Regions from separate parts of the Homo sapiens genome. Here region 1 is linked to region 2. The links come from fine-mapping of genetic effects on gene expression. A gene starts in region 2. The other region holds a variant in brackets. All regions are shown on one strand. Distances are between the middles of the regions.

Region 1 (8,876 bases), 150 kb after region 2:
GAGGAGCTAGTCTTCAATAACACGATTGTCTCATTTGCTAGCTTTTCTTTGCCAAAGACTTTTGAGGCTTTCTTTCAGATACCACGTAAGTCATTGACTCCTGACTTGGTCTGAAAGTACTTCATTAGGTTGCTACTGATAGCCACTTAGCCAAGAAAGCTAACCTCTGAGCACCCTCTAGTGTATTGCCGATGGATTTCCAGACCTTACTTGTAAAATGTTAAAGTGTCTTTTAATCCCCAAGAAAAAAACCGTTGCTCCAGCTCCCATGTTGGGCCAAAGTTTCAATTTAAAGTTTTAACGAGTGTCTTACTCATGTTCCCATTTACATATTAGTGTAATGAAATTTCCACTGAAACTATCCCTGCCACCAAAGGAAATATGAGAAGTCTCTCAAATCTTCTTTCAGGAGAAAAATTTAGCAGAGAAGGTATATTACAACATCTCCCTTTTGTTAAAAATCACCAGCAAAAAGGGACTTCATATCCCTCAGAGAATAGGACTCACACCACATATAACAGCTGACAGTACTCACATCTCTGATTTCCAGCAGGGAAATAAGCCGGGATGAAGCCTGAAGAACCCCAATCTCAAGAACTGACGAGGTAGACTTTCAAGGTTACGTTCCATCAATCACTGGAAAACTTCTCCTGGAGCCTCTGCTCCTCAGCTGTTTTCATGTGAAGGATTTTCTTAGCCCTGTTCAGACAGCTTTACTGCTGAAAGGTTGGGGAACACTTCCTTTTAAAGACTGTCTTTATTAATGTGTTTTACTTCCCCTGAGAGATCTTTAGTCCCTTCTGGTAGTAACCTCGACTGACATGCATGGAGATCAGCAATAACTTTTTCTGTGTTTCAACATTTTAATATTTCCTCCTCCTCCCACTCCAGCTCTCTGTACTTTTCCATAGGAAATCTGGTTGATTGACTTTCATGAGTATCCAGCCAGCTTGATGCCCGATATTCTTTTGGCAAGAAGTAATCCTTTTCATAGGTAAAGAGTTAGTTCAAGCCGCTCATTTGGCTTGGAAGAGAGAGGTGTTTTGAGGAATATCTGAACCATATCTACTTGGAAGTAGAGACAAAAATCTCCAAAGTGTCTGATAAATGGTGGTAGAGGTAGCTTGACTATCACTCTAGGTCAGGATTGGTGCTTAAAACAGAAAGCCATTTGAAAAACTGATGAAAACTATGGGCTCTCTCCCCAGGATATTAAAAACACAAAATTTTGCATACTGTTGTAGGGGGTTCTAGACATCCATGGAATATAGGTTAAGAACACTTAATTTGAAAGAATAGAAATATTAATATTTTAGACTTGCATATCAATATGTAGTTTTCAAAACCCTCTCACATCTTATTATCTCAGCATACATTTTAAATAGGCAAAGTAGATATGATTATCCCTATTTTAGAAATGATGACAGACCTTAGGAAGTAGAGACACAGATACATCCTTTGTAGTATTACTTTATGTACTTGAAAAGGAATTAATTGGTTTCTCTTGGCCTTGATCCTCTTTAGGATAAATAGATCTTCTGTCCTCCCCATGAGTCCTGTTTTTCTTAATATATTACCTGTCTCTTCTTAAGAGCCTTAAGTTACGGAAAGCAGAATTAGACCCAGTTTTCTTTAGACCCTGTTTTGGGTGTAAAGAAAGATCACCTCAGCTGGGCGTGGTGCCTCATGCCTGTAATCCCAGCACTTTGGGAGGCCAAGGTGGATGGATCACCTGAGGTCAGGAGTTCGAGACCAGCCTGCCCAACATGGCGAAACCCCATCTCTACTAAAAAGTACAAAAAAAAATAAGCCAGGCATGGTTGGTGTGCTCCTGTAATCGCAGCTACTCAGGAGGCTGAGGCAAGAGAATCACTTGAACTCTGAGAGGTGGAGGTTGCAGTGAGCCGAGATGGCACCATTGCACCCCAGCCTGGGAGACAAGAGCAAAACACCATCCCCCCAAAAAAAAGAAAGAAAAGAAAGGATCACCTCATTGTATTCTCTGACCTTTCAAATAACCTTTACTTTTCTGCCTGTGAACGTGCCTCCATGGTTATAGCCATGATAGGATAGAATGGTTGGTTAAGTAGAGTCAAGAGAATCAGGGCTGCTTTACTCACGCTTGGAGAAAGTGTTAGAGCAGTGGTTTCCAAAGTGTGGTCTTCAGACTGGTAGCATCAGCGTCTCCCGGGGAGTTACTCAAAACACAAAATCTTCAACCAGAGAATTGGAAGCTGAAAAAAATTTTTTTTTTTAAATTACAAAATACAAAATCTTGGGCCCTCTCCAGACCTAATAATTCAAAAACTCTGGTGGTTAAGATCCAGCAATGTGCTTTAATAAGCTCTCCAGGTGATTTTGATGCAGCTAAAATTTGAAAGTTACTGTGTTCTATAAAAACTTATTGGCTGTGTGCGGCGGCTCACGCCTGTAATCCCAGCACTTTGGGAGGCCGAGGTGGGCGGATCACGAGGTCAGGAGATCGAGACCAGCCTGGCTAACACGAAGTAAGTGATGGAACTTTTTAAGTTTTTTTTTAGTAGAAACCCTGTCTCTACTAAAAAAAACAAAACAAAACAAAAAAGCAAAAAAACTAGCCAGGCGTGGTGGCATGCGCCTGTAGTCCCAGCTACTCGGGAGACTGAGGCAGGAGAATCACTTGACCCCGGGAGGTGGAGGTTGCAGTGAGCCGAGATCGCGCCACTGCACTCCAGCCTGGGTGACAGACCAAGACTCAGTCTCAAAAAAAAAAACCAAAACAAACAAACAGACAAAACTTGTTAAGTGGTAAGGCTTTTCCTGTCTCCTAAAATGTCTTCTGGTTCTATTTGGTATAGATATGCCAGTCCTTCTGGCTCAAGTTATCTGACTTAAGTCATTGGACCAAGGAGCTCCTTTTTACCTGAGTGAGGGAAAGGGGAACCAGCTTAGTACATGCGGACTGGGGTGAACATTCTTGTTAGGAGGAGCAAAAGTTGAGAGATTCATCAAGCAAGCAAATGATCTGTCTCACTTTGTGAAATTATGAGTAAGAGATCAGAATTGCTGTGGGTGATGGTGAATATTCATATTTGAGTTCAATTAATTTCTGTTTCCATTTCTGGTAGTGACATTGGGCAAAGTTGCCTTAAAGAGCTGTTAGAGTTCTAATTCTTATATAATTAGGTGTTTTAGAATTGTGACTTGATCAGGGCCCCAAGATTATCCGGGATGATGTCATTTCTAAGATGTAATCTGATACGAAAATGAATTTAAAGAGTAATTTTAAATTAAATAAATTTAAAGATAAAAGGAATGATTTGAGGCTAGTACACCTAGGACTAGGACCTTTGGTCTTCTGATTAATATTATGAGGCATGGTATAGTAGATGGAGCTTTGGCTCTAGCATAAACACAGGCTCAAATTCCAGTCCCATCACTTACTTGCTGTGAGACCTTGGACAAATCATTTGTTCTCTTAGAGTTAAACTTTCCTGCTTTGTCAAGTGAGAATAATACTGCCTAATTCTTAAGATTCTTGTACAAATTAATAGAAGTAACATATACACAGAACTGTGAAAATAGGCACTTACCAAACTTTTCTCTTCCAGAGATGTCAATAAGCAGTATGCAATGTGACCTTCTCTCTCTAAATAAAGATTATCCTTAAAAAAAAAAAAAAATCTGCCGGCTGGGTAC[A/G]GTGGCTCATGCCTGTAATCCTAGCACTTTGGGAGGCCGAGGCAGGTGGATCACTTGAGGTCTGGAGTTCAAGACCAGCTGACCAAAATGGTGAAACCCCATGTTTACTAAAAATACAAAAAATTAGCCCGCGTGGTGGCACATGCCTGTAATCCCAGCTACTTGGGAGTCTGAGGTAGGACAATCACTTGAACCCGGAGGGTGGAGGTTGCAGTGAGCCGAGATCGCATCATTGCACTCCAGCCTGGGCAAAAAGAGCAAAACTCCATCTCAAAAAAAAAAAAAAAAAATCTGCCATTTTATGTCCTTTCTTGTGCTCAACAAGCAGTCTTTTTTTTTTTTTTAATTAAGGAAGAATTGACATCACTTTCCCCCCAATCTCTGTAGCAGACAGTTGAGTGTAGCTTTCTTCCTCACTATGTCTCTTTCAGAAATCAGCAAATAAATAATGTGATTCTTTGCCCTTTTGCTTGAATATTTGGCACGTAGTAAGATTGTTGTGATTCGGGGGACTCTGAGGAGATAAGAAACTTCCCTTTGTAGTCGTCCCTTCCATGAACACACATTTTGTGAAAAAAGCAAACTGGGTCACTCTGTGCCAAATCAGCAACAATCTTGAGCTGGGACTAGAAACCAAATGTCAAAACCTGTATAAAAGATGCACAATTCAGAGGAAAGCAGTGAACTGAGAAAATTGATTTCCTTGGTGACAGAGCTGAAATCAGTGTCCCCAGTCTGGCTAATCCAAGGACACAGAGTGTAGGGTAGGGCCTGCCTGAGTACTTGGCACCATTAATTTTTTTTTCTTACTCCTTTAATGAAGTCTCTCATTGTTTAAGTGGCTCTGTGGTTAATTTTTTTCTAATGAGACTAGGTTAACTAAAATCATCTGACATGGAAAAGGAGGAGGTAAGGTTGAAAAGGAACCTAATTAGCAAGTTAATTATAGCGAGCAAAAAAGTGCAGTGGTTATATAAATAAGCTATTGTTATGCGCATGCAAGTTGGGCCTTGTCAAGGGACTTGCAAGGTTTAGAGGTCAGAGGATCCATGTAATTAGGTGTTTAGGAAAAAAACAAGTAAAAGCAAAACAGCCACTAGAATTAGGAATGGCTGTTGAGCCACTAACAGAAATGCCTTATTAAATTGGGGCTGTACTGCTGAAGGGGTTGTTGGAGCTGCTTCAGGGATTCCAAGGAAGAGTAGTCCCCCACTCCCCAGCCCAAAAAGCTGGCTGGAACCAGAGCCAACAGAATTGCTGATGAGGAAAGTTTAAAGGCCTGATCACAAGGGTCCCTGGACCACAGAGGTGGCAGTGGGGCTGGTAATGTCACTATGCTGGGCAGCAAGAAGAAATACATTGTTAATGGCAACTCTGGGATTAAGGCCCAGGTGAGGCTAAGCTCTTATTTACCAGTCTTGCCGCTGCTATAGCCATTATTGTAAAAGGCCGACTGCTTATACTCTTTTTCCCCTCCTTTCCTGCTTTCATCCCTCCCTCTGGCATAAGGTGAGCTACCCCTCTTTTAACAGTCTCTTTCCCTCCCTTGCCTTAATGCCTGTTGGAATTAGGCAGTTCTCTCTCAAATGGAAAAGGAGGATTACCTTAAAAGACCCTGGTTCCAGACAAGGTAGGAAAGTTAGGGGTAGAATCTACTAAGGTACCACAATTGGGGTGGGCAGATTACAAAACCAATCCATTACAAAATGGACTGTATATTGGTGTTTAATTATTAAGAGGAGGTAAACACCAGGGAGCCACTTAACTCATGTTCTGGTCGTCAGAGAAAGATACTCGTTTCTTGCGGAAAATTGCATAACTTATATTTAAGTGGTTAATCTCACTCTAATATTTTTCTGTCTTAAAGAAACTTGAATTCGGTGTCTAACCAGTAAGCAAGGTTTTAGAACCCTATGTTCTAAGTGGAGAAAGCCTTGTACAACCTAGTCTTCTTTAGTATTAAAAGATAGCATGAACTTGTCCCAGGAAGGAGGGATTGCTGTAAATAGAAAACACTATAGAGAAGACAGCTCAGCTCAGATAAACTGGTTTGAGATGATAATGCAGCTAGATAGCTATATGGTTTATTCACCTTGAGCCTACAATCTAGAGTATAAGAGTGACTGGCCCCCTCTAGTGGTGTGTGTACATGGTGTGTGTGCATATGCACCCACATGTACATGTACGCAGGTGTGTGGTTGTGTTGGGGTTGTGTTGAGCATCTGAAACACGGTTTATCTATTCTTCTTTAAAGGGGACACTGGAAAAGTTCCATTATTATTCCTTTTCCTGGATGGGCTTCTAAAAAAGAATAAAGACATGTGACTGTTTTGAACAAGGTTGGTGAAACGGAAGCCAGAGTTTGCATCCTGACTGCTGTCCACCTCCCCAGCTTTCCACCTTCCCTCTTCTTCCCAGCTCTTTTTGCCCTTAAAAATCATTTTAACTTTAGACTTGGTTTATGTTTGCCATATTTAGTGAGTATTCAAACAAGTATAGACAGTGAAGATAGAATAGGCTACTTCAGATATATTGATTCAGCACTTGATTGAGTGCCTAGGATTTGTGCCTGCAGATATAAGGGTGAATAAGAATCACAGCTTCTCCCTTTATGAGCCTATAGTTTATAGAGAATACCGGTAAGTAGACAGATAGTTACATTCATTGTGGTAAGTGCTGTGCTAGGAGAAATGCAATACATGAAAGTTCATGTACGTCCTATGGGAGTACATAGAAAGGGCACTTTATCTTTTTGGAATAAATTGCTAGTTGAGCAAAATAATCATCTTTGTCATTTTTTTTAGTTCATGAAGAACTTCTTATCCGATGAGTTTTCCTATTGCTGAAAACAATTTGCAAGCCCTAAAGCACTCTGTAGGCTTTATTTGTTGTTATAGCTATGAAAATGCTATGAATCCCCCTAAAAGGCAATGTGAAGCTATTTCAATTTGGCATTGGTCCCTTGTCGCAATACTCAAGTGACTCATTAGTTACCTCTAACTGCAGGAAGTGGAGCCGTCAGTTCCTGCTTTCATTCTGGTGTACTGTATGTTCTGCCCATCAAGGAACCATCTTTTTATCATTAAAGGTAGAGTCACTTGTCAGACCTTTGATCATTTTCATTAGACCTTCCTCTATGCCACCTTGGATCCAGAATAGGCAATTATACAAACAGAGAAAACAAAAAAGTTATTAGTTCAATAAATTGTATGAGCTTTTTTTCCCCAAACAAGTATAGCTTACAAGTGACCTTTGATTTGTAGAGTATTATAAAGTATCAGCTGGAACCTCCAACAATAGGAGAAAGATAAAATTGTAAGAAAATCATTATCAAATAATCATCCAAAATGCAATGTCCAGAGTATGATATGAGGCTTATACATATTCATTCAATTAATCTGCTCCTTCTACATCTATTATAGTTAATGATCAATCTTACTGCTTTTAGGTATTTTATAATATCAAATATTTAAAAATAAATTAATATTTACTTACTAGCCAGGCGTGGTGGCTCACGCCTGTAATCCCAGCACTTTGGGAGGCCAAGGCAGGTGGATCACAAGGTCAAGAGATTGAGACCGTCCTGGCCAACATGGTGAAACCCCGTCTCTACTAAAAATACAAAAATTAGCTGGGCATGGTGGCACACACCTGTACTCCCAGCTACTTGGGAGGCTGAGGCAGGAGAATTGCTTGAACCCAGGAGGTGGAGGTTGCAGTGAGCCGAGATCAAGCCACTGCACTCCAGCCTGGCTACAGAGTGAGACTCCATCTAAAAAAAAAAAAATAAATTTACTTACTAGTACTGGAAAGCTAACTAATATATTTTAAAAAGCTTTAACAAATTAGAGTGGCTACCTGCAAGAGTTACGAGAGCATTGAACCGTAGGGGTTGGGTAGGGAGTAGATTTATTGAATTTCCTGCTATGTTTCAATTTACACACATTGTCTCATTGAACCCTCTCTAAAACCTGTGAGGTAAGTACTTTTATCTCTGTTGTATTTATGGAAAAATGAGACTCACTAAAGCATCTTGAGCAACATTACACAGCTAATGAGTGGCATAGCCAGAATTTAAATGCAATTTCAGAATGTTCATTCTTAATGAAAAGGCTTTTTAAAAATTATTAAATCATTACCATTTCCTGAGATTCTTGAAACCTGAATGCAAGTGATTTTGCCTTCCTGTACCTTGCAATTTTCTCATCTAGATATGTGGAGCTTACAAATATGATAATCTCAAATATTCTTTCTTGTACCTTGCAATTTTCTCATCTAGATATATGGAGCTTACAAATATGATAATCTGAAATATTCTTTCCAGTTTTACTTTTCAGTGAAACTGTATAAAATATTTCTGAATATGACTCAATTTTCTAAAAATTTAACCAGAATATCCCATTCTCTATTTGTGGGGAGTGGGGTGTCACAATTTTATTGTAAAAAGCATATAGTCAAAGAGTAGCCAGGCACACTGGCTCATGCCTATAATCCCAGCACTTTGGGAGGCCAAGGTGGGTGAATCACTTGAGGTCAGGAGTTCGAGACCAGCCTGGCCAACATGGTGAAATGCTGTCTCTACTAAAAATATAAAAATTAGCAGGTCATTGTGGTGTGTGCCTGTAATCCCAGCTACCAGGAGGCTGAGGCATGAGAATCACTTGAACCCAGAAGGTGGAGGTTGCAGTGAGCCGAGATCGTGCCACCGCACTGCAGCCTGGGTGACAGAGTAAAAGTCCATCTCAAAAAAAAAAAAAAAAAGTGTATCAAAGATTTAAATTTGATTAGAAACATAGTAGGTAAAGAATGAGACATTGCCAGACACAGTGACACATGCTTGTAGTCCCAGCTGTGTGAGAGGATTGCTTGAACCCAGGAGTTCAAGGCCAGCCTGGGCAATATGGAAAGACCCCATCTCTATTTAAAAAAAAAAAGAAGAATGAAAAAGTATTCTTATCTTCAAAGGGTCTTAATATCCCAAACATAGGTTGATACAATCAGATCAACTGTTAGGGAAGGTGAAAGCCTGTAATACAAGCCTTGAATTGCTGTCTCAAAATGGAGGTTCTTTTTCTTTATATAACTAGGTTTCTTTTTCTTAGCAGATCCAGTTTGCTGACCAGAAGCAAGAATTCAACAAACGTCCCACCAAAATTGGACGTCGCTCTTTGTCTCGTTCCATTTCTCAGTCATCTACT
Region 2 (8,876 bases):
CACCACACCCAGCTAATTTGTGTATTTTAGTAGAGACGGGATTTCACCATGTTAGTCAGGCTGGTCTCAAACTCCTGACCTCGTGATTTGCCCGCCTTGGCCTCCCAAGTGCTGGGATTTCAGGTGTGAGCCACCGTGCCTGGCCAAGAAATTCTTCTTTATTGGCCGGGCGCGGTGGCTCAGGCTTGTAATCCCAGCAGTTTGGGAGGCCAAGGCGGGCAGATCACGAGGTCAGGAGATTGAGACCATCCTGGCTAACATGGTGAAACCCCGTCTCTACTAAAAATACAAAAAATTATCCGGGTGTGGTGACACGTGCCTGTAGTCCCAGCTACTCGGGAGGCTGAGGCAGGAGAATTGCTTGAACCCAGGAGGCAGAGGTTGCAGTGAGCCGAGATCATGCCACTGCACTCTAGTCTGGGCGATGGCACGAGACTCCATCTCAAAAAAAAAAAAAGAAAAAGAAAAAAAGAAATTCTTTTTTATACCAATGTCCTGCATGGACGTTACATTCCTGCTTGCCAGCGTTCTGGAAGCTGAATGAGCCGGGTGAAGGAAGAAGACCTGTAGTCCAAATATTTCATTAAATAGTTCATAAACTGGTGCTTAATTACCCTGTTTCTAGTATGTAATTTGATCTTCAACTGTACCTGGTGTCCCTCAGCTACAAGGATGGCAGAAGCAGCAGGTATGTAGGGATGGAGTTGACAACAGGTTGAAGAATGTGTCCTGATGGTTGGCCCCAATCAGTGGTGGTGACTGGAATAAAACAGGGTATCAGTTTCATTCCAGTGCTCTAACTCCTTATATTTTATAACCACATCACACTGAAGAATTAATTCATCCTCTCAGTAATCAATTCTAGTGGCAGGTAGGCAGCTGCTGCCTATGAGCTCCAACACATGCCAGGTGGCTGTACCGTAGCTCCCTTGAGCATTAGGGGGAAGAATGAAATCAGTTACAGAGCTGCTAATCTCTGCTCCGACAGCTGGAGGATGAAGCTCTGGGCTGGTTTCTTTTTAACAGGAAGGAAATTCTGAAAGCCGGAATGTGAAGAAAAAACTTAAGAATCTCTTGTGTCTTGTGAGCTCTGTGGAAATGGCAGTGCTCAGATGCCTTCCGACATGTACTGTGAGGCACAAATTTGGAGATCAGGAAATGAGAGCCTCCATTCAAGGCAGGACAACCACACAGAGTGAACAGATTTCCAAAATAGTAGGACAGGAAAGAAGATCGAGGCAGGTGATTTCTCTCCCTTCTCCTTCTTTTTTTTTGAGACAGAGTCTTGCTCTGTTGCCCAGGCTGGAGTGTAGTGGTGCAATCTCGGCTCACTGCAACCTCCACCTCCTGCGTTCAAAGGATTCTCCTGCCTCAGCCTCCTGAGTAGCTGGAACTACAGGCAGAAGCCACCACGCCTGGCTAATTTTTGTATTTTTATTAGAGATGGGGTTTCACCACGTTGGCCAGGCTGGTCTCGAACTGCTGACCTCAAGTGATCCACCCGCCTCGGCCTCCCAAAGTGTTGGGATTACAGGTGTGAGCCACCATGCCTGGCCTCCTTCCTTCTCCTTGCCAGGCAAAACACAGTGACACCAAAGACTAGATGTCTAAAGAGTAGCTGTCCAGTGGCTGCCTGGGTTGTTAGGGCTGTAAGTCTCTGAAACAGCTGTAAACTGTATGAACCCCTTTGCTCCTGTTTCTCTGAGCATAGAGAGGAACCCCCCCCATAATCTGTCGCGAGTCAACTGCATTTTGTTTTTTTAAAGTATTCTTTTTTTTTTTTTTTTTTTTACGAGACGGAGTCTTGCTCCGTCGCCCAGGCTGGAGTGCAGTGGGGCGATCTCTGCTCACTGCAAGCTCTGCCTCCTGGGTTCACGCCATTCTCCTGCCTCAGCCTCCCGAGTAGCTGGGACTACAGGCGCCCGCCACCACGCCCGGCTTATTTTTGTATTTTTAGTAGAGACGGGGTTTCACCGTGTTAGTCAGGATGGTCTCGATCTCCTCACCTCGTGATCTGCCTGCCTCGGCCTCCCAAAGTGCTGGGATTACAGGCTTTTTAAAGTATTCTTTACATAAAATCTTATGGCATGTGCAATTTTGTCTCTTGCTTCTTAGCTTAATGTTTTTATCATAAGCATTTATTCTGAAAGCCAGAATGCCTTGATCTTCTTTCCTGTGCTATTACGATTTTGGAAATCTTCACTTCGTGAAGTTGTCCTGCCTTGGAGTCTCTCATTTCCTGATCGCCAAATTTGTGCCTCACACTATGTATCGGAAGGCGTCTGAGCACTGCCATTTCCACAGAGCTCACAAGTGTACCAGACACAAGAGTTTCTTAGCTTCCTCTTCACATTTTGGCTTTCAGAGTAAAGAATGAAAAAGGGAAAACCTTGTTGTTAAAAAGTATTGGCAAACAATTTTCTTTCTTTCTTCCTTTTTTTCTGGGACGGCATCTCACTCCGTTGTCCAGGCTGGAGTGCCGTGGCATGATCTTGGCTCACTGCAGCCTCTGCCTCCCAGGTTCAAGCGATCCTCCTGCCTCAGCCTCCCAAGTAGCTGGGATTTCAGGTGCCCGCCACCACGCCTGGCTAATTTTTGTATTTTTAGTAGAGATGGGGTTTCACCATGTTGGCCAGGCTGGTCTTGAAGTCCTGATCTCAAGTGATCTGCCGGCCTTGGCCTCCCAAAGTGCTGGGATTACAGACGTCAACCACTATGCCCAGCTGGCAAACGATTTTCAAAGGCTGTAACAATTGCTCTATTTGTTGGACATTAGTTTTAGACAGTTTTTTGTTATTAAAAAGGACGCTGCGGTGCATGTCTTTTTGCTTACATCCTCTAAATGTAAAATTTAAAAATAATACAGAAAAGTACAAAGTAAAAATCACCTTAAATCCCATCACTTAGGAAATTAACTACTCATATTCACTATTCATATCCCTCTATGCTGATATATGTATCTGAATTTCAGATGATTGCCCTATTAGAATTATAGGTGAAAAGATTTGGCCTCGTTTAAGGCAACGTGTAATTCCTCAGCCTTGAATTTTGATCTAGTGATACCTAACTTCTTTGAGGAATGATCTTAGCTTCCAAACCCAGAATGTGACAGAAAGCGCCACAGCAAGCAAGGTCCTACTTTATCCCTTCTAAAAACAAAGCCACTGAAGTTTGGAAGGGTGTTGAGTTCTCAATATCACAAAGAAAAATAAAGCCACTTCCAGCCTGGAGCCGCCGCTTCTCCTTTAAATACTCGCTCACGTGATCGCAGACGGGCACGCGCGGAGGAACTTCACGCTGTCAGGACAACGAGCCATTCCTCTACCACTTCCCCTCCCCTAAGGCTTCTTGGCGTTCCCTCCCCGGAAGTCACAACTCCTCTGGAGACTTTCTCTTCCTCATCCCCTCCGTCGAGTCACCTATCCTCACTCCTTTCTGTTAGCTGCCGGCCCTAGCGCTCCCTCTCCTCGGCTGAATCTCACTTAGTGGAGGAAAGGCTGAAAGGACTACAACTCCCAGGGGACGCTGCGGGCCCCGCCCATGGGGCGCGCAGTGTAGGTCGGGGCCTGAGGTCCCACGGTCTTCTCGCCGCGTGCGGCCGGGAGCAAACGCACTACAGGTTCCGTGGCGCCTCGCGCGAGGCCAGACCGGGACGGGGCGGGGCGGGGCTGGAGGGGCCGGGACTGGCGGGCGGAGAAAGGGGGTGGGAGAGGAGGCGATGGAGGGGAGGAGTGGGGACATGGGGGAGGGAAGAGGAAGGGAGGTGGGAGGCGGGGCCGACCAAGAGCAGGAGCTGGAGTCTGAGCCGGTGGTTGCAGCGGAGGCGGTGATGTCGGTGCAGGTTGTGTCAGCCGCGGCTGCCGCCAAGGTGCCTGAGGTGGAGCTGAAGGACCTGAGCCCCTCCGAGGCGGAGTCGCAACTAGGACTGAGCACGGCCGCCGTGGGCGCCATGGCCCCCCCGGCGGGCGGTGGAGACCCTGAGGCTCCAGCTCCCGCCGCGGAGCGGCCCCCGGTCCCCGGCCCGGGCTCGGGGCCCGCCGCCGCTCTCAGCCCCGCCGCCGGGAAGGTGCCTCAGGCGTCGGCCATGAAGCGGAGCGACCCACATCACCAGCACCAGCGGCACCGCGACGGCGGCGAGGCCCTGGTCAGCCCCGACGGCACCGTCACCGAGGCGCCGCGCACAGTCAAGAAGGTACTGGGGCCGGGCTGCCTCTCTAGGAGAGGAAGGGAGGGGAGGGGAACTGCAGATCCTCTCGGCACGGCGGCACCACCCTCCACGCCCTCCTTTCTGATCGCAGGACCGGAGATACCCCTTGTCCCCTTAAACCCACTCTCTCAGAGATGCCCCCCAGCCGGCCCCTCGTGCTGGGAGCGGAGACTCCAGGAGGCACGGCCGTACTTCGCTCTGAATAACATGGAGGTAGCGCTCTCCCCTACTACTTGGAATAGGCAGCGGGAGGAGAGACACCTAATAGTACGTCCCGCGGCCCCAACACGCTCCCGGGTGTGATTTTCCAGCCTATCGGGGAAGAGACCTCGATAGTATAGAAAAACCTTACCGCTCACGGGAGTTCACACAGCAATAAGGATGAAAAGATCTTTAATACTTGGAGAACGAGTAAGGTGTAGTCACCTTGCATAGAAATCGTCAGAGTTGTCTGGTTTCCATACAGTTGATGACTTTCTGCCTTTCTGTGGCCAACCGTGGCCATACAGCAACACGATGCTGTGCCCTTCATTTCCAGCGACTGCGATATTCTCTCTTCCCTGAATATGTAAAAGGGTAATGGAGAGATTCTCCTCACTCTTTCGTGTTAAGAGCTTTGTCCTCCCTGCTGGGTATAGTTGGTCACCAGGATTATTAGGCTGTGTATGAAGAGAATGAATGTCTTATTGATTGCTTTATTATAATCTGAAAGTGATAGGAAGAAATGCTGCTACTTTTGGGAAAGACGATCTTTGTGGGGTTTTCGGTCTTAGGCGTCAGCTTCTTTCAGACAGTTTTGAGGAGGTCTCAGAATACCAAGAAGTAACTGCCTAGGTGGATGATAGCCCTGTATTACCCGTACATTGTCTATCCATAGTTGTCTGTCTCTCTCAAAGCTTGTCTTTCTTTCTCTCTTAAAGCTGAATCAGCACAGAAAAACAGGGCAAGTATTGGAAAAGACAGAAGTGTGGATCATATAAAAAGGGCTTACAGCTTCAATTTCGTAGACACAGTATGGGCACAGGGATTAATGTTTTTTTTAAATTGTTGTGAATGGTTTTTAATTGCTTTATCAGAACAGCAACAAAGAGACGGGAAGTGTGCATTGGTTTTACTGTGTGGGACCAGCTGAATTGGAACCTTGGATCCACCATAACTTTTTGTTGTCATAGCGTCATGATTAAGGTATAGCGGATAATCCTTTCATCCTAACGATACAAATTTAGGTGATAAGTCAGAGGCAAGACTGAAGGAATTTCTGTAATGCTTTAGACAATGTCTTTGTCGTTTGTAGTATGAAACTCCTCTGGGAAGAATTAGAGTAGAAAGAGGCAGCATCCTGCAGAAATGGGTTTAAAGAAAAAAAGTAAAGTAAAAAAGAGAGGCAGCAGCAGCACCAGTGCTGGGAGTACCTAGATCTGAGTCTGGAAATCCAAAGCATACTTCTGACTTGTTGAGATACTTTGTATCGTTAAGTCATTTTCTTGTGATAAAGACTGTTTTTGTCTAAACTTTGTAATTTGGTTAGATTTCTTTAGGCTAAAAGTGTTTAACAAATTGCTTTTAGAGCATGAAGTTTACAGTCAGGCAGACCTGGATTTGAAGCCTAGTACCCCCATTACTACCTTTTGGGTAATTTCCAAATTACACAAATCAGTTTCCTCTTCTATAAAATGAAAGTACTAATTATGATTGAGGATTAGAAATATTTGTAAAAGGTTTAGCATTGAGCTTGGCACATAAAGTCTTAAATGATATTCTTACTAATGCTTTTATTATTATGAATAATTGATTTTATTTTATTCCTCCCATCATGGCTTAAGTGCAAGCCCCCATGACCACCTCTGAAAGTTACACACAGTTCAATATATTCTATATAAAGAAATTAAAAAATCATGGCTCACGTCTGTAATCCCAGCACTTTGGGAAACCACGGCTGGTGGATTGCTCGAGTCCAGGAGTTTGAGAACAGTCCGGGCAACATGGTGAAAACCTCTCTCTCCAAAAAAAAAAAAAAAAAAAAGAGCCGGGCATGGTGGTGTGTGCCTATAGTCCCAGCTACTCAGGAGGCCGGGGTGGGAGGATCACCTGAGCCCAGGAAGTTGAGGCTGCAATGAGCACTCTAGCCTGGGTGCTGGAGTGAGACCTTGTCTCAAAAAAAAAAAAAAAAAAAAAAAAGTTAAAAAATCAAAGACCAGCATACTGGAGTCTGTTTTTCTTAATTCTAGATGTGCTTCTTGACCACTTTCCTTGTCGTTGAACCATCTTCCTGTTTTTTCAGCACCAAATGTATGTTCCATGATTGTAGATATACTCAGCAGCCTCAAGGCTATTGTAAAGCAGGGCTGAGCTTGCCTTACAATGTTAATTGCACCAAAAAAACAACTTCTCTGCTGAAAGTTAAGCAGGTGAAGCTCTGGGCAAGGATACAGCTGGATGACGAAATTCAGGGCATTGCTGAGCTGCTTTTCAGGTGCCCAATCTTTAACCTTCTTGATATTGAATTGGCTAAATCAAAATAAGTGCCCAAGACTGCCCTTTCCCTAAGTTGAAAGTCATCTCACCAAGGAACTGCAGTGTGACATTTTGATTTGTTGAGCCTTTGTTGATTCTTAGATTGTCTATGTAAATAACCACTTTGACCTTGACTCCTTACTGTTTTTCTTATAGCATATGAAGGAACTGAGAATACTAGTATTGAAATAGCTGCCTTTGGCTGTGGAACTGGTGACTGTTGCATTTGTTTTTTAACTTTCATGTATAAACATTTATTTTAAGTCACATTTCCATAGATGGTTTTCCTTACTTCATTCACATATCATCAGTTTTCTTAGTTTTGTTACTCTGCTCAGCCACACAAGGGGAATAAACTTTTTACAAGAGCCAGAATTCCCAAGTGCAGTAGTTAATAAGAAGGAACATATGGTGTGCAGGTTACTCAATCACATCTTATCTTTGGCACCTGCCTCCGTCCTGTAACTTGCGATGCTCTGGGGGCCAGATCATGTTATGTGGCTATGATATATTTAATTATAGTGTCCTTTTTCATAAGTTGACATCAAGTGAACCCAGCAAGCCAAAAATCTCTATAAGAAGTAATTTGGGAAATGGGAAGGTAAGTTCCACAGGGAATGAGGTAGTACTAGCTGAAAGGGATTTCTTCCTTGTGTTCTTGAAAATGAGTGATAGGAGTGTTGGCGCACAGCAGGGAAAACAAGGCAGGAGAGGATTTATTTCAGAAATATTAAAACTTTCTGACAATAAGGCTGCAAGCCCAAGAACCTCAACTAGATTGTGCTTACATCAGTATCAGTAATGACCGTGTTCAAACAGACCCTTTATTGCTTTTGGCAAACATATCCACCTTCCACTGGCTTTGTTGCTGTCAGGAGAGAATGAGTTGAGCCATGTTAGCACTTCTTGTCCTGAATTGTTTAAGCTCTTGATTTGGTTAATTATAGAGTACTAAAATGGAATGTTTTGGATAAAGACATGGGAATGTGGTAGCAGTATGACTCCTTTTGCCTGTTACAAGAGTACTGCTCTGAAAAGTGTTCAGTAAGGCAATTGGCAGTTGGTCTGTAATAATAGTTACCAATAATTAGCCTTTTTTTTTTTTTTTTTTTTTTTGAGACAGAGTTTTACTCTTGGTGCCCAGGCTGGAGTGCAATGGTGCAATCTCAGCTCACCGCAACCTCCGCCTCCCGGGTTCAAGCGATTCCCCTGCCTCAGCTTCCTGAGTAGCTGGGATTACAGGCATGCACCACCATGCCCGGCTAATTTTCTATTTTCAGTAGAGATGAAGTTTCTCCATGTTGGTCAGGCTGCTTTCAAACTCCCGACCTCAGGTGACCTGCCTGCCTCGGCCTCCCAAAGTGCTGGGATTACAGATGTGAGCCATTAGCCTTTTATGTGCCAGGAGTTGTCATAGGGGTTCTGTAATCCTCACAACCATACTATGAGATGTAGGTGGCATTATTTCCATTTTATAGATGCAGAAATGAGATCCTGGGAGGTTAAGTGCCTTGCCCAAGGTTATACATCTAGAAAGTGTCAGAGGTAGAACTTAAATCCAGGGCTGTCCGTCTCCAAAGCCCATGTCCTTTTCATTATGCCACAGTGATTCTAACTTCTTAGATGCTGAGTTCTTGCTTTCTCCCAGAGGTCTTTTAGAATACTAAGTGAACTCTAAGGCGTGTCTGTCTGGCTAAGGCTTAGGTCATCCCAAGACCAAAGTAAGGCAGGTCTGAGTTAGAGCTTTAGGAAGAGGATGGGAGAAAATTGTACAAATGTAGAACTTGAAAGAATTGTAAATTTAGAAGAGGAGAATAAAAGCATCTTATACAGAAAAGCATTTCAAGATCAATGATGCAGCTTCACACTGGTAATTTACTGATAATCTGAGAAATTTATCCATATTTTAAAAGTTATAAATAAATTTGGAGTACCTGAGGAATATACCCTTTCTTCCTGTTCAGCTAACACTTTTTCCCTATTCTTTAAGCCTCACCATCTCTATGAGTCAATCTTTGATAAGAGCTTTTGAAAATTGCAAAGGGAAGAATATTCCTACTGTATACCAGGCATTGTACTTAGAGCTTTACATATACTGTTTTATTTAATTCTTTTTTTTTTTTTTTTTTTTTTTGAGACCAAGTCTCGCTCTGTC

Evidence for each region. PIP is the estimated chance that this variant, and not a neighbour inherited with it, causes the effect. A credible set is the group of variants that fine-mapping cannot tell apart.
Region 1: its variant is the best candidate, but not a certain one, in a credible set for the expression of AHCYL2 in whole blood (INTERVAL, PIP 0.76).

The regions. Positions count from the first base shown.
Region 1 is chr7:129,370,858-129,379,733 of GRCh38, forward strand. It overlaps AHCYL2 (adenosylhomocysteinase like 2), which reads left to right. Exons shown (of 17, transcript NM_015328.4): 2 at 8,781-8,876. It overlaps LOC107986847 (a long non-coding RNA gene), which reads right to left and starts at 6,821. Exons shown (of 3, transcript XR_007060518.1): 1 at 6,673-6,821; 2 at 536-2,234. RefSeq lists enhancers at 4,397-4,957, 4,958-5,517. The variant A/G (reference allele first, on the strand shown) is at 3,679.
Region 2 is chr7:129,221,248-129,230,123 of GRCh38, forward strand. AHCYL2 (adenosylhomocysteinase like 2) reads left to right here and starts at 3,783. Exons shown (of 17, transcript NM_015328.4): 1 at 3,783-4,192. The coding sequence starts at 3,830. RefSeq lists silencers at 761-1,055, 3,677-3,746, 3,867-4,116 and an enhancer at 3,287-3,396.